Regions from separate parts of the Homo sapiens genome. Here all the other regions are linked to region 3. The links come from fine-mapping of genetic effects on plasma protein levels. Region 3 holds a variant in brackets. A gene starts in each other region. All regions are shown on their reverse strands.

Region 1 (4,618 bases), not on the chromosome of region 3:
CAGGTGTGAGCCACCGCGCCCAGCTATTATTTCTTATAATTTAGAAAAATTAACAGGTTTTATTATATATTTTTCATTCCCTCCAACAGAGAAGTTACCATATGATCCTGTCTGCCCTTACCTCTGTTTGGGCCAGAATTGGTGGCCTGGTATTGCCAATAGGTTCTATGTTGGGGACAGCTTCTGCCCAGCTCTGTTATTAGGACTGGGAGCATGAGCTTCATCTGCCCATGCTGAAGATCACACGTGTGATTTTTTGTGTGTGGGAACAGCAGGTAGTTAATACCACAAATACATCTTGCCAGGTTAAATCAAAGGCAACAGTTAAAGTCTGAAATTCTTGAATGAACTTAGAGGGATCCTGACTAAATGAACCCAACTTGGATTGAATTTGCAAAAGATCAGACATGATCAGAAAAGGGACATGAACTTGGCTTGTTCCCAAATCTTCATTAGCCACCTTAGGGAGAGGCAAAATATTTTGGGGATTTTTCTGAGGACTCTGTACTAGTAGCATATGTGACTCCCCTGAGAGTATGTGAAGGGGAGAAAGTATTTGGGTATGTGGGTGGGAGATTGACTAGGGAATGGAGCAGATGGAGAGGGTGTAGGTGAAGAGTGAGCAGGTTGAGGAGGATGTAATAGGCAAAAGGAAGGATCATCTAAGACATCAGAACCGGGAAGGGAGGACGTTCCTTGGAAGCATACATGACAATTTGTATGTAATTTTGGGTTTGGATTTGGGGATAAAGCAAAAAAGACCTGAACATATGGGACTTCTGAATCCTTTCCAAGGTTCCGGCAAAAAATCAGTTAAGTTGTAAAGTAGCATTGCAATCCCAAGTTTCATTAATTGGCCAAATTGATTGATTAGGGAGCTTGTATTGAACCCAAGCAATATTAGAAAAAAGGATATGCTTTTTAAACTCTTATTTATTTTTTATTTGTATTTTTTGAGACAGAGTCTTGCTGTGTCGCCCAGGCTGGAGTGCTGTGGCGCCATCTTGGCCCACTGCAACCTCCGCCCCCGGGGTACAAGTGATTCTCCTGCCTCAGCCTCCCTAGTAGCTGGGATTATATGTGCCCGCCACATATAATTAGCCCCCTGGCTGATTTTTTTTTTTTTTTTGTATTTTTAGTAGAGACAGGGTTTCGCCATGTTGGCCAGGCTGATCTCGAACTCCTGACCTCAGGTGATCCACTCGCCTCGGCCTCCCAAAGTGCTAGGATTACAGGTGTGAGTCACTGTGCCCGGCCAAGTTTTGCATTTTTAGTAGACTCCCGGTCTTTAACTCCGGACCTCAGGTGATCTGCCTGCCTTGGCCTCCCAAAGTGCTGGGGTTACAGGCATAAGCCATTGTGCTCAGCCTTATATGCTTATTTTTAAGAGTTTGTGGGTCAAAATGAGACCAATGGGACCATTTTTAAGGAGGCAATCCAAGGGCGAGTTGGATGGAACTGAATTAATTGAACCGAAGTTGGGTTTAGACAAGGAACTACAAGATCCCTGAGGCATCCCTGTGTAGAATTGAGATCCACCGCTTCCAGGACAAGGCTTATGGAGTGTTAAAATGAAAGTGCCCTGCCACTCTGACAGGCAATAGCTCTTTTGTCTTGGCCTTGGGGTAATACCGGGGGATGGCGCTTGGCCAGAAACTGTCAGTTGCCAACGAGAACTCAAGCTGGTTCACTGGCAGTCCGAAAACAGAAAAGAGCCCTGGCCAGTCCCTCACCCCTAAGGGCAAGGACAGCCAGGTATCCCTTCTCTAGGGCTTCAGGATCCCACAGAAGAGCTGCCTCCACCGGGACCGGCAGTTCCCCAAAGAGTAAAGAACCAGACCGTGGAAGGAAGCAGAGAGAAAAAGGAAGAGGGAAATCCCAGTGAAGTCCCCGTATGGGCCACCAAGATGCCAGGCGAGGTGTCAGAGCTCCGGAACCGGGAAGTGGTTGGCTCCCGGGTGGTAAAAGAACTTATCAACAACCGTGTAGGTCTGAAAAGGAAAGTTTTATTAGACGGAAAGGACGAGGCAGCAGAGCGCAGTAGGCGCTTCAGCAAGAGAGGACTGAGCTCCCTGCGGGGAACTGCAGGGTAATTTGGACCACATTAGTCACTTAGGTCATGGTAAATGGTTACATTTGTCGATATTTTGGTGCCTTGATGTCAGCAAAGTTTGCACAATGGGTCTTAACGTGCACTCATTCCGGAAACGTACAGAAATTCTAGTTACTTATAAATTCTTGGGACGGAAGCTTGGTACCAGATGTGGCTTTAGACAATAGGGAAGTGTCATTCTGAATTGCTCAGATAAGGGGCTTTGCCTCCTGTTGGTCGACTTGATGGCCACCAGGTGATCTCTGGTCTCTTCAGTGTGGCTTTGCAGACTATAAAGGCGCAGCGCGCCAACGAGGCGGGTTGGCCCCAGACGGCGGAGAGGAAGGGCAGAGTCGGCGGTCCTGAGACTTGGGGCGGCCCCTTGGAGGTCAGCCCCGCTCGCTCCTCCCGGCCCTCTCCTCCTCTCCGAGGTCCGAGGCGGGCAGCGGGCTGTGGGCGGGCAGGAGGCTGCGGAGGGGCGGGGGGCAGGAAGGGGCGGGGGGCTCGGCGCACTCGGCAGGAAGAGACCGACCCGCCACCCGCCGTAGCCCGCGCGCCCCTGGCACTCAATCCCCGCCATGTGGGGGCTCCTGCTCGCCCTGGCCGCCTTCGCGCCGGCCGTCGGCCCGGCTCTGGGGGCGCCCAGGAACTCGGTGCTGGGCCTCGCGCAGCCCGGGACCACCAAGGTCCCAGGCTCGACCCCGGCCCTGCATAGCAGCCCGGCACAGCCGCCGGCGGAGACAGCTAACGGTGAGTTCCCCGACCGACGGTCCGCTCCCCCGCAAGCCGACTGCCCGGCTCTCCTGCCCCGTGGGGCGATCCCTCCCTAACACGCGGGCACACGCACACCCACGCACACTCACAGTCATGCACACTCACCCCGCACGCACACTCGCACTCACGCGCACACACGCGCGCGCACTCACACACATTCACACACGCGCACACTTGCACTCACACGCGCGCGCATTCACACGCATGCACACACACGCACACTCACACGCGCGTGCGCGCACACACAGTGCACGCGCGCGCACACTCACACTCACAGTGCACACACACATATACACACTCACACTCCCTCAACTCCCTGCTGGGAGCAATGGCTGCTGACTCGGCAGCCCCAGTTCCCTGCCAGACCTAGTCAGCAGTCCCAGGACAGGCGCCAGTGGGATGCTGCCTCTTCCAAGCCCCAAACCTTCCCTTTTCACCAAAGACAAAACAGGCCAGAACTGGCAGGAGGGGAGACAGAGGGGCAGAAGCTCTCAAGGTGCAGAGCAAGACTGCGTAGGAGAGAGTTTGAAGGCGAGGGCTGGAGAGAAAGAACAAAAGGAAAGAAGGGAGAGCCCCTCGCTGAGGCTGCCGGGAGGATGGGGCAGAGCGGGAGAGGAAGGCAGCCCGACCTCCCAGCTTTCCAGATGTGGAATAGGAGAGGAGGAGCGCAAGCGGAGGGCACTCAGGGGCTTCTAGAGGAGGCAAGTGGAGGAGGGTCTTGAAGGGTGATGTCCCCGAGTCAGGGGAGTCTGGAGAGAGAGAGAGAGAGAGGGCTGCCAAGAAGGAAGCGGCGGGCAAAGGCACAGGGGCACCAGATGCGGAAATGGGCAGCCTGTTCTGGAGGCAGCTGTGGAGCTTCGATGGGTACCCCCAGCACCTGCCTGGGCAGAGCCTTGTGCTGAAGGGCCGGCGGGCAGGCCCAGCCCTGAAAGCCTCGACACCCAGGCAGACATGGATTCCAGGACAGGCCATCTGAGCCCAGAGAGCAGACACAACAATGGAAGCGGCACAGGGGTTTTGGGGCATGATGCTGAGTCTGGAGCTAAGAAAGCCTCCTTGGAAAGGCATCTGGGCTGAGATGCAAAGGAAGAATGGGAATTAGGTGAAAAAATCAGAGGCGAGGGGTAGCATTACAGGGGAGGGGATAGCTAGTGCAGAGGCCCGGAGGTAAAGTGCCAGACTCAGCTCTTTGGAGCAACCGAACAGTTTCTAGAGGCTGGGTGCAGCTCTCCATTGGATTAGAGGTTCACAGGGGAGGCTGGCCAAGCATGTAGTTACATCAGGGAGGAGAAGGAGGAGCCAAGGAAGTGACTGGAGAGGCAGGTTGGGGTCAGATTGCAGGCCTTTGATGTCCTGTGAAGGCTGTTAGATCCTGGTGGTGTGGCCTGCTGTGGGCTCACATGTCTTCTTGGGCTGGCAGACCTTTCCATCCGGGGTTTCACCATTCTTCCTTTCCCCCATGCTGTGCCTCTCGGACCCCAAGGGACCTCAGAACAGCATGTCCGGATTCGAGTCATCAAGAAGAAAAAGGTCATTATGAAGAAGCGGAAGAAGCTAACTCTAACTCGCCCCACCCCACTGGTGACTGCCGGGCCCCTTGTGACCCCCACTCCAGCAGGGACCCTCGACCCCGCTGAGAAACAAGAAACAGGTACTTCCTCTCCAGGGGCCCAGCCCAGACTTGCAGCCCCTGGGGCACTTTACCAGCACAGCTCTTGGCCTCATGGGCACCGGCACGCCCCTTGCTTGCCT
Region 2 (4,503 bases), not on the chromosome of region 3:
TAGTTTAGGATCAGTTAACATCTGTAAGTGAGAGTTTGGGTAAGAAAACTGTCATTAATAAGCAGGCTGTTTACCAGAGTCAGAATATTATTATCTTCGATATATTGTTTTGCCAGCATTTCTTGAAGCAAACACTGAATTTAAATACTGGATTGCAGTCTTATCTTTTCCAGGCTAATGTTTCCTAGAAGAAACAACTAAGTCATGTGTACATAACTGGTTCATAGTTTTACCTAAGTCATGTTCACAGCTGATCTCAATTCTTAAAGCCTATGATTTTAATATCAGAAAAAGTAGAACTTCAAATAAAAATATCAGAAGTTAAAAAAATGACATTGTATACTACCAAGAAGAAAATTAGATCAAAATGATATAGTATCCCATTATGTTAAAAAATAACAGGAAGAACTACTGTCAGAAACAGAAAAACATGTCAACAATTATAACTGGAGATTTTAACGTCATTCCCAAACAAGATTTGAACATTATAATAAGCTCAAAATTAATACCCAACAAAAATAAAGCACACACAGAATTAGTTGCAATGATCAGCCATGTCCAGGACTACAAAGAAAGCCTGAATGCATTTCTAAAAGCAACATCATTTATAGCAAAAATTAAATATAATAAAATTAGAAATTGATAAAAATCATATATCCCTAAACTAAGAAAACACAAATAATTTGGGGGTTAAAAATATAAACAAATTAAGATATATTTGCAACTGTTTGCCAAAGGAAGCACTACGTATCAAAATTGAGAAATACAAGTAAAGCAGAATTTAGACAAAACTTGTATTTTATTGATCGACTGATTGATTGCAGAGATGGGGTCTTGCTGTGTTGCCCAGGCTGGTCTCAAAGTAACTTCAAGTGATCCTCCTTCCTCAGCCTCCCCAAATGCTGGGATTACAGATGTGAGCCACCACACATGGCCCGAAACTTGTATTTTTAAACTAAAAAGAAGAAAAATGAACTAAGCATTCAGCTAAAAAAGCTTGAAATGAAGCAACAAAGTAAAACTAACAAAGCAAGAAGGTAGGGAATAACAAATGAGAAATAAAGTAGATGGTCAGAATGGATATTAGAGAATGTACAATGGATATATTATCATCATTATTTTGCCATCCAAAACTATCATCTCCCATATCTACTTGGGAGGCTGAGGCAGGAGAATAGCTTGAACCCAGGGGTTGCAGTGAGCTGACATGGTGCCACTGTACTCTAACTGCACTCCAGCATGGGAGACAGAGCGAGACTCCATCTCAAACAAACAAACACACACACACACACACACACACACACACACACAGACACAAAACACAAAGAACAAAACCTATCATCAAAGAAAACAAAAACTCAATATGTAAAAGAGGTGTTATTCTGGCTGGGGCCCTGCTACCTCTCTTTCTCCACTGACTGAGCAATGCTTTTTGAATAACCAGATTTAGAAGACCTGTTGTAAAATAGGTCTTGCATGAAGCTAGTGATGAACTCACAAACCAGTGAAAAGGACTTTCTCAACCTTTAAAATCTGCTAGTGGCAAAAAGTGTTTCCAGGGGGTAAGGAAGAAAAAAAACCAAAAAGTCCTGAGCAACTATTCGTTTTTACCTTAAGACATTCTGTGTGTGTGTGTGTGTGTGTGTGTGTGTGTGTGTGTGTGTGTGTGTGTGTGTGTGTGTGTTTTAAGTAGAGACGGGGTTTCACCAACGTTTGAAAATATTTATCATGGTCTCCCTAAGATGGACGGTGTTAGCTAGGATGGTCTCGATCTCCTGACCTCATGATCCACCCGCCTCGGCCTCCCAAAGTGCTGGGATTACAGGCGTGAGCCACCGTGCCCGACCAACCTTAAGACAAACAACTACTGCATGATTGTTTTTGGAGACCTTTTTTTTATTCAAATAAACTTTTTGCCAGCATTTTCTGACTCAAAGTATAGCAGCAGGAAGATAACACTTTTGTGAGAAAAAAGTTTGAATACAGCTTACTGCTGTATTTAAATGAAACAGTAGTTAATATGATATTAATATATTTTGGATATATTTTGAGTTTGTTGATTTTCCAGTCTTCACCCGCTGCTAGGCCTGTGGGTGTTGGAAATGCCTGTGGTTCTCAATTTTGTTTGCCTATTAGAATCCTGATGTCCAAGCCTTACTCCAGTTAGACCAGTTAAGCCAGAAAGGCAGAAGGTGTACTCAAGCATCTGTTTTTTCAAAATCTCCTTTTGTGATGCCAAGTGCAATCAAAGTTTAGAATCATTGTAATAGCAAATGGTTGAATGGAAACTCCACCTTCTATTCAAATCCTACCCCAGTCTGCCCTTAGCTGTTCCCTTTTCACAGATCTATCAATGTCTGAAGATAACTATGGCAGGCTGATCAAATATGCATAGAGCAGGAAGACAGCAAGAGAGTGATACACTGACCATGTTCCAAATCACAAAACATCTCAACAGGCTAGATCATGGACCGAGTCTGATGGGATGGAATTTCATAAAGATACATAAAAAAGCATCTTGGATACAGTAAACTTAACTCCACAAATACAGGGGAATTTAGACGTGACTAAGTAGCAGTACATATGAAAAATTATTGAGGAATTTTGTTGACTTTAAGGGTAGTGTGAGTCAACACTGTGATTTGGCTGCCAGAAAATAAACTCAATCCAAGGCTGTATCAACAAAGGCATACTGTCCATTCTGCATGCTCATTACAGCACTAAGTACCGAGCCATGTTCTCAACCGCATACTTCATGAACATGGAAAGCTAACAGTATGGTTAAGGGGGGAAACTGGAACTGTCATCTTGGGGAATAAAAGGGATATTTAGCCAGGAGTAAAGTTAGCTTAGGGAGACCATGATAAATATTTTCAAAATATTTGAAGGACTCAGTTGTGGAAGTGAGATTAGATTTATTGTGTAAAACTCCAGGAGTCAAAAGCAATAGAGAGATAGAAGGAAATGCTTTTCAGCAGTGTTGCTCATCAATAAAGGGAGTGAACAGCCACACAGAATGGAAGGTTCCCTGTCCTTTGAGATATTTAAGCCTTCAAGTAAATTATGGGTGAGGAGTTTCAAATCTAGAGTTGAACCAGATAAGAAAGTCTCTTCTTCCGGTAAGATATTATGGACCTATAACATCTGTGTACTTAAAAGTAGATTGGGAGTGAAAGGCAGACTTTTGATGTTCTGTACACTGTTGAAACCCCTTAGCGTGGTCCTCTGTAACCTGCTCACCCTGCCCCAAGGAGGCAGCTAGCCAATGCCACCAGCCCAACGGAAACCCCAGTGCTTTTCCAATGGGGAAATGCAGTCACTTTTCTTTGGATGCTACACATCCTTTCTGGAATATGTCTCACACACATCTCTCTTTATCACCCCCTTTTTCAAGTAAACCAACTTCTTGCAGAAGCTGACAATGTGTCTCTTTACTCTCCACGAAGATTCTGGCCCTTCTCTTCACCTGTCAGAAGTTTAGGATTCCAAAGGGATCATTAGCATCCATCCCAACAGCCTGCACTGCATCCTGAGAACTGCGGTTCTTGGATCATCAGGCAACTTTCAACTACACAGACCAAGGGAGAGAGGGGACCCCTCCGAGGTCCCATAGGGTTCTCTGACATAGTGATGACCTTTTCTTGGAACTTTTACAACCCCCAGGACATTTCCAAACTTTGAGCAGGGCTCTGGGGGCCAGGCGTGCGGGAGGGAGGACAAGAACTCGGGAGTGGCCGAGGATAAAGCGGGGGCTCCCTCCACCCCACGGTGCCCAGTTTCTCCCCGCTGCACGTGGTCCAGGGTGGTCGCATCACCTCTAAAGCCGGTCCCGCCAACCGCCAGCCCCGGGACTGAACTTGCCCCTCCGGCCGCCCGCTCCCCGCAGGGGACAGGGGCGGGGAGGGAGAGATCCAGAGGGGGGCCGGGGGAGGTGGGGCCGCCGGGGAGGAGGCGAGGGAAACGGGGAGCTCCAGGGAGACGGCTTCCGAGGGAGAGTGAGAGGGGAGGGCAGCCCGGGCTCGGCACGCTCCCTCCCTCGGCCGCTTTCTCTCACATAAGCGCAGGCAGAGGGCGCGTCAGTCATGCCCTGCCCCTGCGCCCGCCGCCGCCGCCGCCGCCGCTCAGCCCGGCGCGCTCTGGAGGATCCTGCGCCGCGGCGCTCCCGGGCCCCGCCGCCGCCAGCCGCCCCGCCGCCCTCCTCCCGCCCCCGGCACCGCCGCCAGCGCCCCCGCCGCAGCGCCCGCGGCCCGGCTCCTCTCACTTCGGGGAAGGGGAGGGAGGAGGGGGACGAGGGCTCTGGCGGGTTTGGAGGGGCTGAACATCGCGGGGTGTTCTGGTGTCCCCCGCCCCGCCTCTCCAAAAAGCTACACCGACGCGGACCGCGGCGGCGTCCTCCCTCGCCCTCGCTTCACCTCGCGGGCTCCGAATGCGGGGAGCTCGGATGTCCGGTTTCCTGTGAGGCTTTTACCTGACACCCGCCGCCTTTCCCCGGCACTGGCTGGG
Region 3 (4,618 bases):
TAGGAGATCTCAAAATGTTCTAACACATAACCCATCCTTCCCTTGGTGGGACAATTCCACAAGTCACAGAAAAATATTTTTCATTTTAGAATAGATTTTAAGAGAGCCTTTGCCAAGAGCCAGTTGTTTAAATTTTCAATTGAATTTTAAGCAGTATTATACATGTCCAAGAACATCATGCTATTTTTAGCTAATAGGTAGGATTGCTGTGTCCATAACCGTTTAGAGCAATCAGGAGTGAAACCACTAAATAGTATCTCTTACTGTGGTATCTTATCATTTAGCATTTCTATTTCTATTTTAATATTTTCCAAAGCCTCATCATAAAAACACCTGTAAAGCACCCATGCTGGGCACAATACAAAGTTCAAATAGAAAGACACAGTTCCTATACTTCATTATGGGTTAAACCCACATTAAGCAAACCAGGTATTTGAAAGAATCTTGGCTGGGCATTATGGCTCACGCCTGTAATCCCAGTGCTTTGGGAGGTCGAGGTGGGAGGATCACTTGGGCCAGGAGTTCGAGGCCAGCCTGGGCAATATAGTGAGACCCTGTTTCTACAAATAAATTAACAAATAAAAAAAGAATCTCACAGTTAGAGCATTCTCAAGTTGCCACCAGCCTCTAAGTATCCAGAGGAGGAACATTAGGAAGCAATTGTCCTAAACCCATCATCTTTCTAATGCTTGCACACCTTTTATGTATTAAAAGAAGAGGGGTAAGGAAAATGTTCTAGGCCGGGAGCGGTGATCCCAGCACTTTGAGAGGCCAAGGTGGGTGGACTGCTTGAGCTCAGGAGTTCAAGACCAGCCTAGGCAACATGGCAAACCCCTATCTCTACTAAAAATACAAAAATTAGGCTGGGCATGGTGGCTCACACCTGTAATCCCAGCACTTTGGGAGGCCAAGGCAGGAAGAATGCTTGAGCCCAGGAGTTCAAGACCAGCCTGGGCAACATGGTGAAACCCCATCTCTACAAAAAATACAAAAATTAGCCAGGTGTATTGGTGCACACCTATAGTCCCAGCTACTCAGGAGGCTGAGGTGGGAGGATGGCTTGAGCTTGAGGGGCAGAGGTTGCAGTGAGCCGAGATCGTGCTACTGCACTCCAGCCTGGGCAACAGAGCCTGACACTGTCTCACACACACACACAAAAAGTTTTAGGCCGGGCACAGTGGCTCACTCCTGTAATCCCAGCACTTTGGGAGGCCGAGGCGGGCGGATCACAAGGTCAGGAGATTGAGACCATCCTGGCTAACATGGTGAAACCCCGTCTCTACTAAAAATACAAAAAATTAGCCGGGCGTGGTGGCGAGCACCTGTAGTCCCAGCTACTGGGGAGGCTGAGGCAGGAGAATCGCTTGAACTTGGGAGGCAGAGCTTGCAGTGAGCCGAGATCGTGCCACTGCACTCCAGCCTGGGCGACAGAGCAAGACTCCGTCTCAAAAAAAAAAAAAAAGTCCTAAAACGTACTGTGGTGATGGAGGCACAACTATACCTAAAGTCACTGAAATATATATCTAAATGAGGAAACTGTATGGTAAATGACTTACCTCTCAATAACACCATTTTAAAAAGGAGACAAATTGTCTTACTCTGATTGTTCTATTAGTCAAACCTATTTTTTAAATCTCTCATGCTAAAGGCTGCACTGGTTTGGCAAAGGTGCCTCAGAGGCCACCATGGAGATCACTCTAACCTTCCCCTCCACATCCATCTTTCTTTCCCTTACACTCTTCCTAGTCTGTCCTCTGTTAATTCCCCAGTATCCTTCCTGTTGCTCCTCCACTTTTAACTAGGTGTTAGGTCCCTCAGGTGTTCACAAGCATGGTCTGTCCCAACTGGTAGACCTCAGGATTAAGCTGATTTGCTGACCCTCTGATGCTGACCTTCAGCAACTTTCCCTTCTTAGACAAGTTATATCTTGGCTCTCTTGTCATTGTTTCAGTATGCACAATGAAGAATTGGACCACTTGATCCTTTCCAGCTCTCACATTCACGTGAAGAAAAAAAAATTCAAGTAATGAACACTTACTTGGCCAATCACATGCAAGGTCTCTTGCCAACCAACATACATGTATTTGGATTATTCATTTTGTAAATACCCACCGTGATGTAATCCTCTGAAGAACCACACTTGTTTATAAATTGATCAACATGGAGTCCTTATTTTTAAAAACTAGCACTTTACCAAAGAAAATTTAGAGCCCAACACAGAATGCTTGACAGTCCCTCTGGACCAGTCTCCAGGGATCTGTTTTCAAAAGGGGAAAAAAAAAAA[AG/G]CTTTTGCATGTTGGGGACTTGCTGGATTTACCAAACCAAAGGAGGAAGTAAGATTGATTGGGGTGGCAGAGCCTTAACAACAGTGGTTCACCTAAATCCTAAGAGAAGAAAGGCCTTATTTGGCAAGTAGTAGAAAGAACTAGCATAAAACAGCACCTCAACCTACATTATAAACTCTCAGAAATATGCTCAGAGAGCAATAAACACTGCAGGAATCCCCTTACCCTGGACAACCTGCAGCTTTTTATGCAAGCCAGTTGCATTCCCCTAACAAGTCATAGAAATATGTAGTCACTAGTATCCAGCATACCCCCACCACACACAATTCACAGTATTGTTTCCATGTGCCCAACATCAGAGAGCAAAACCGAAAGAAACATCAATTTCTCCTACAACATACACACACAAATACGCAAGAAAAACCATTTCCTTTGCAGAACCTGTGTTGTCTAAGTTGTGGGCATGAAATGCACAAATATTAGTTGCTAATAAAAATCAGACGGTTAGCTCTGTACTGGAAAGCGAACAGCACACACATAAATCATAAAAAAACAATATCCCTAAGGTGCGTTCCTGATCAGTAAGCTGAAAACCAAACAAGGAGAGAAATGACTCAAAGTGTCCATTTGCATCCCTCTTTCTCATTACCTCAGACCAACAAGCTCTCTCTCCTGTGAGTTACCTCCCTGCACTTCTGTCCTCGATCAGAAGAGCCTCGTGGAAAAGGTCGCAGGCTCTCTCTTCTTTCCCTTCAGGATCTTGAGGCACTGAAGGAGCATGGGGGGAGGGGAACGGAAAGGACAAAGGTAGGCGCTTTCCATCCCTTTCGGCTTGGCGACGGGGCTCCCAGCCTCTCCCCCTCTCATCGCGGAAATAGAGCACCTGCCAGGGAGAGGTCGGTCCCTTCCACCTTAGTAATCGGCCCACAGGGCCTAGGTGTCCCAGGAGCCCAGGCGCTGCAGCCCTAGGGGACAAAGGGGAGGAGGAGGCGAAAGAAGTCGGGAATGGTACGAATCCCTTGCAAACAAAAGGGAGGGGGCAGAATACCAAGCCGGTCGCGGCTGTTCTCAGAGGTGGACAGGTTGGGTGGAGAAATGGGTGTCGGGGGAGGGGAAGATTTAGAAAATTCCTCTAGGGCAAGGGATTAGGGAGCTGCTTGGGGGCGCAGCAGCCAGCAGGAAGGGGGCTGAGGCAGGACAGAGGCCCTGGGGTGAGAAGGGGGCACAGCTCGCTGTGGGGGAGAGGTGATGGCTAAGAGGTGAAGGCCAGACTGGGCCCAGTGTAGGGTGAGGGGGCGCTGAGCCCCGCGCGGCGCTCCGAGGGGCCCTGAGGAGGGTCTCAGAAGGAGCCTGGGGGCACGCAACGAAGGCATTCGAGGGAGAGGGCAGAATTGGGGCACGCAGTGTTGGAAAAGAGGCTGAGAACAGAGCCGTAGAGAGGTTAGGGGGGACTGCGAGGGGGCCTGACCCCCGTCCGCCCCACCTCACCTGGCGCCGGGTCGGAGTCCAGATCTAGTGCTGAGAAAGCGCCAGCTCCGGCCAGTCCCTCCGTCCCGCGCGGGAGACCACGGACACAAAGCGGGGCGCGCGGGAGGAGGGGAGGAGAGAGGAGGGGGAAGGAGGGAGGAGGAGGAGACGCCTGAGGCGCGCGATGGGGGGAAGGAGGGGCGCCTGCCGCCCTCCTCCTGGGTCAGGGGGCGGGGCATGCGGCTGGAGGCCGCCCTCAGCCGGCCAATGGCCACTCCACTGGCCCGCAGGCTAGGGCGCGCCTTCCCGCGGCTCACCTCGGCACCTGGGCCTCGGTTGGCCCCAGCCAATCAAACGCCTTTATTTGCATGACCAGCCCCGCCCATTCGCCCCAGCCAAGGACTGCTCACTGAGAATACAAAGAAGGCCCCCCGGAGGGGAGGGAGTCGACTCCAGTTGGCCTATCCCAAGGGCATAGTATCACCTTTTCAGCGCGTTTATGGGTCTTTCACGGTCATCTTGATGAGGGGAGGGGAGTGGGGGTCACAGAGGTTTGGCCCAAGATCTCTTAAGAGGTCGGATCTCTTCTACCTGAGGTCCTTCTAACCAAGAGCTGCTCTCCTCTTCCAGGGCACACAGTTCCCAGTCTTCTCCTGTGGGCCCTCCGCCCCCTCCCCTTTTTCCAGTCGCCCTAATCTTTGGATGCTGCTTCCAGTAGGCTGCTGCCCACTACTGGCCTTCTCCTGCACTGCAGCCCACATCAGCAGGCTCTGAGCACAGCCTTAATTGATGCTTTCAAGCCGCCCAAACCAACCCCTACCCAGCAGGAAAAGGAGAGAGGAAGAGGTTACTGCTCTAGGTAGAAG
Region 4 (4,534 bases), not on the chromosome of region 3:
CAATAAAACTTTTTGTTTCAGCTAAACTTAGAAATAAATCATTGTCCTATTTAGTGTCAGTAGGTTCTACAGTAATTAGTACATCAATCATTTGAGGAACTCGTAATAAAATACTTTACTCAGAGATAGAATGTCACCATCAAGTCACGAAACCTTTCCAGGGCGAGTTAATTTGGAAGTCTGCTTACTTCTAAAGTAAACTGTCAAATGTGGTCTGTAGGTTATCGCATTTAAAAACAGGACCTGAGAACTTGAGTAGACATAGTAGATAACTATTAAACAATAGGGAAAATTGGCTTGAAAACAAAAACATGATTTAAAAAATTACTATATTCATCTTTTTGATAGAGAGTAATTTTGAACATTTAGTATTTTAAGCATTTCTTCTAAAATTTAAGGATATGAAAAGTAAGAAAAGAATATGGAAAATTTAAATAATATTCTGTGAGACTTATACATAGTTGTAAAAGGAAGAAAACTTGTTGCCAGTGCCACTTACATCTGCCTCTTCTTTATTGACAATCTTCCAAATAAATTTAAATAGCATAGTTGCTTTGGGTCCTGTCGAGTTTGGCCTGGAATTGTAGGTGATTAGAAAGGATAGGGAAGCTTTCATGTGATACGTATTCATTGATTTATTAATTATTTAAGACCTACTTTATATTGAAGTATCCTACATGTTATAGGATACATGAGACATTCAAACAAACACAGGACATGCCACTCCCTACAAAAGTGCATGGTTCAATTGAGGAAGGAAGTCTTACAGATGGGACAGAGAACCAGAAAATAACATAAAGCCAACATGTAATGTGTAGGTCCACCTCTCTATCTTTGTAGGGATATAGCATTTCAGACCAAAACCTTTAATTTGGGTCTGAGAATTCAGGAACAAATATTTTCCTTGGTAAGGACATTTCTTGCACAATTTCTAATAGTGCAAAATTGGAAACACCGTGAAGGGCACCAACAAGGCAAGGTTGAGTAACTATTGTTCTTATCACAGGACGTCACATGGTCATTAAGAAGAATGGGGGAAAACTACATTAAGATGACCTGAAAAGATAAGGAACACATATTTTTTGAAGGATAAAAGTCAGCTGTATAGTGATCCATATACAATACTTCTATGTATATGTGTACCTCTATGTCTTAAACGTGTCTCATTGTATACATATACATGTGTGCATATAAGTGCAGACAGAATTGAAAACTAATGCAAAATTGTTACCAGTGTTTACCACTGAATAGTAGGAATGTGGAGAAATGATGAAGAGAAATTTGTGTTTTATTTCAAAGACATCTGCAGCATACGAATCTTTTGCAATAAATTATATAATTTTTCTGTTAAATTAAAAATAAAAAGAAAAATAAATATGCTGGGTCCTACTTTTTAGGTATTCTTAGGTGGTAGAAACAAGTAGCTTCTTTTGTAATATAAAGGAGGATGAGTTTCATTTGTAGTTTCTAGATGAAATTACAAAAGATAATATAGATTGAAGGCAGAAAGAATCCAATAAGCTAAAATCCAAAGACAACCTTTGACGGTAATTGGCTCTTATTTTACTTACATGCTCCAAACCAATCCCAATATTTATCAACATTCATGAAAAGAACATTTGCTTTCTTTGGCAAGCAAAGATAACTTTCTCTTTCAAGGGCCACATGTTTGTGCCTTCAGGTGCTCCTAAAGTTTCTATTAAGCCTAAAAACTGCAGTATAGAAAAGGCAGGGCGTATTGTTATAAATCATACAAAGAAAATGCATGTAGTATTTCAGTCTAGTTCTTACCTTCCTGAACGGAGTTCTTACACAGGTGTAAGGAAGATAAGTATTGAGAAAGGGAGAGTGGGAATGTGAAGTGATGCACATTAAGCAAGTTAGTAGGAATTTGACCTGTCTGGTCTTTCTCTGGGTTGGGCACAGCTTCAAATGCTTATGTGTGTATCACCACATACCCTCACTTCCTCCTTTCCTACCTCTTCCTTCTTACTGGCTTTGAGAAAGAGCATATAAATGACATCTTCAGGGCATGAGAAGCCACTTATCTGCAGACTTGTAGGCAGCAACTCACCCTCACTCAGAGGTCTTCTGGTTCTGGAAACAACTCTAGCTCAGCCTTCTCCACCATGAGCCTCAGACTTGATACCACCCCTTCCTGTAACAGTGCGAGACCACTTCATGCCTTGCAGGTGCTGCTGCTTCTGTCATTGCTGCTGACTGCTCTGGCTTCCTCCACCAAAGGACAAACTAAGAGAAACTTGGCGAAAGGCAAAGGTAGAGGCCCTGCTTCTCTGCACTTGTTGCTGCTTCTGCTACACCTGTCTCTGGGGTAAAGACTAGCTTGGTGCCTTTGGGGCTGGAGAGGGCCATTATACCAATAACTCCAATTGGAGGAGACACACAGGGGGGTCACTTCTCACTTCTTGTGTGCTGGGCAATCTTCTGGGCACTTTACTAAAGCGTTACAGATCATATTCACAATGGCTTTATGAGAGAGGTACAATTGCCCTCAATCTGCAAATAAGAGACCTGAGGAAAATATTCATGACCACCAATAGGTCACATTTTCTACCCTAGAGGAAAGTCTAGACAGTGACTTGTATGCTGAACTCCGCTGCATGTGTATAAAGACAACCTCTGGAATTCATCCCAAAAACATCCAAAGTTTGGAAGTGATCGGGAAAGGAACCCATTGCAACCAAGTCGAAGTGATGTAAGTTGCTGTTTCTGTGCTATTGCCTTATCAGAGAAACCCTCTACCTCCATCCACATATGCACTCGTTTCCTCCAGTCTCATGGATTAGTTCTGATATTCAGATCAGGACACCCACAGATAACCCTGTTCTCTTTTGCAGAGCCACACTGAAGGATGGGAGGAAAATCTGCCTGGACCCAGATGCTCCCAGAATCAAGAAAATTGTACAGAAAAAATTGGCAGGTGATGAATCTGCTGATTAATTTGTTCTGTTTCTGCCAAACTTCTTTAACTCCCAGGAAGGGTAGAATTTTGAAACCTTGATTTTCTAGAGTTCTCATTTATTCAGGATACCTATTCTTACTGTATTAAAATTTGGATATGTGTTTCATTCTGTCTCAAAAATCACATTTTATTCTGAGAAGGTTGGTTAAAAGATGGCAGAAAGAAGATGAAAATAAATAAGCCTGGTTTCAACCCTCTAATTCTTGCCTAAACATTGGACTGTACTTTGCATTTTTTTCTTTAAAAATTTCTATTCTAACACAACTTGGTTGATTTTTCCTGGTCTACTTTATGGTTATTAGACATACTCATGGGTATTATTAGATTTCATAATGGTCAATGATAATAGGAATTACATGGAGCCCAACAGAGAATATTTGCTCAATACATTTTTGTTAATATATTTAGGAACTTAATGGAGTCTCTCAGTGTCTTAGTCCTAGGATGTCTTATTTAAAATACTCCCTGAAAGTTTATTCTGATGTTTATTTTAGCCATCAAACACTAAAATAATAAATTGGTGAATATGAATCTTATAAACTGTGGTTAGCTGGTTTAAAGTGAATATATTTGCCACTAGTAGAACAAAAATAGATGATGAAAATGAATTAACATATCTACATAGTTATAATTCTATCATTAGAATGAGCCTTATAAATAAGTACAATATAGGACTTCAACCTTACTAGACTCCTAATTCTAAATTCTACTTTTTTCATCAACAGAACTTTCATTCATTTTTTAAACCCTAAAACTTATACCCACACTATTCTTACAAAAATATTCACATGAAATAAAAATTTGCTATTGACTTGTTGTCATCTATTATTAATTTTAACAGGATTGTTGGGGAAAAAAAGCTTTAATTTTCCTCTCTTTTTTGTATACTTGGTATTTCACAGTTTGAACAACAAAAGTTACTAAATTGATGATCGGTGTCATTCTTAATGTAGTATGATAACAGTTCCAATTTATTAATCATTTTAATATGCCAGGAATACTAAGTGTTTTCCATGCATGAACTAAACAATTTTTTAAAAGATAGATATGATCTGGTTAAAAGAACATCCTCTGGAGTTTGAATAATGAGGTAACCTGGCTCTGCCACTTGTTAGCTGTGTATATCAGGTCATGTTGCTTAATTTCTCTGTACCTTAGGTTCTTCATCCCTAAAATGGGGATAATATTGCCTCCCTCATAGAGTTTATGGAAGGATTAAAAAAGTTAATAAATTTAAGGTATTTAAAATAATGTGTGTCATAAATAAGCCACACATAAATGTTAGTAATTATTTCTTATGATTATTATTATCCTCCCCAGTGTTACAGAAGAGAAAAATCAAGTTTATAGAGTTTAAAATACTTGCCCACTTTCAGATAACTAAGTAGGTAACAGAGTGGGAATTTCAAATTGTGCTCTTAACCACCACACCACAGTGCTTTCCTCAACTCTTCTTTCTCTAATGAAGAGATTACATTACATATAACATAGTATTATTCACACATGTAATACAACTTGATACATAAATAGCATACTGTATATACTATAATA

Which allele goes with the higher level. Positions count from the first base shown, and alleles are read on the strand shown. Strength reflects both the effect of a copy and how common the allele is.
For the plasma level of the protein whose gene starts at base 2,616 in region 1, allele G in region 3 goes with a higher level than allele AG (weak association).
As copies of AG replace G in region 3, the plasma level of the protein whose gene starts at base 4,083 in region 2 goes down (weak association).
In carriers of allele G in region 3, the plasma level of the protein whose gene starts at base 2,043 in region 4 tends to be higher than with AG alone (weak association).

The links. A credible set is the group of variants that fine-mapping cannot tell apart. PIP is the posterior inclusion probability: the model's chance that the variant is causal. Protein levels are from antibody-based Olink assays in UK Biobank. Linkage for the fine-mapping came from a reference panel and not from the study's own genotypes, which makes the PIPs less certain.
Region 1: CPXM1 starts here. The variant in region 3 is the best candidate, but not a certain one, in a credible set for the plasma level of the CPXM1 protein (UK Biobank, PIP 0.56).
Region 2: it holds the start of VEGFC, and the variant in region 3 is the best candidate, but not a certain one, in a credible set for the plasma level of the VEGFC protein (UK Biobank, PIP 0.77).
Region 4: it holds the start of PPBP, and the variant in region 3 is the best candidate, but not a certain one, in a credible set for the plasma level of the PPBP protein (UK Biobank, PIP 0.52).

The regions. Positions count from the first base shown.
Region 1 is chr20:2,798,625-2,803,242 of GRCh38, reverse strand. It overlaps CPXM1 (carboxypeptidase X, M14 family member 1), which reads left to right and starts at 2,616. Exons shown (of 14, transcript NM_019609.5): 1 at 2,616-2,842; 2 at 4,350-4,517. The coding sequence starts at 2,671. RefSeq lists enhancers at 2,073-3,058, 3,059-4,046, 4,047-4,618.
Region 2 is chr4:176,792,502-176,797,004 of GRCh38, reverse strand. It overlaps VEGFC (vascular endothelial growth factor C), which reads left to right and starts at 4,083. Exons shown (of 7, transcript NM_005429.5): 1 at 4,083-4,503.
Region 3 is chrX:70,454,419-70,459,036 of GRCh38, reverse strand. All of the region lies in intron 9 of DLG3 (discs large MAGUK scaffold protein 3), which reads right to left. It overlaps DLG3-AS1 (DLG3 antisense RNA 1), which reads left to right and starts at 3,043. Exons shown (of 2, transcript NR_109801.1): 1 at 3,043-3,092. RefSeq lists silencers at 3,866-4,095, 3,833-4,259. The variant AG/G (reference allele first, on the strand shown) is at 2,285.
Region 4 is chr4:73,985,699-73,990,232 of GRCh38, reverse strand. PPBP (pro-platelet basic protein) reads left to right here and starts at 2,043. Exons shown (of 3, transcript NM_002704.3): 1 at 2,043-2,277; 2 at 2,581-2,716; 3 at 2,859-3,794. The coding sequence starts at 2,130. The coding sequence ends at 2,961. RefSeq lists an enhancer at 4,364-4,534.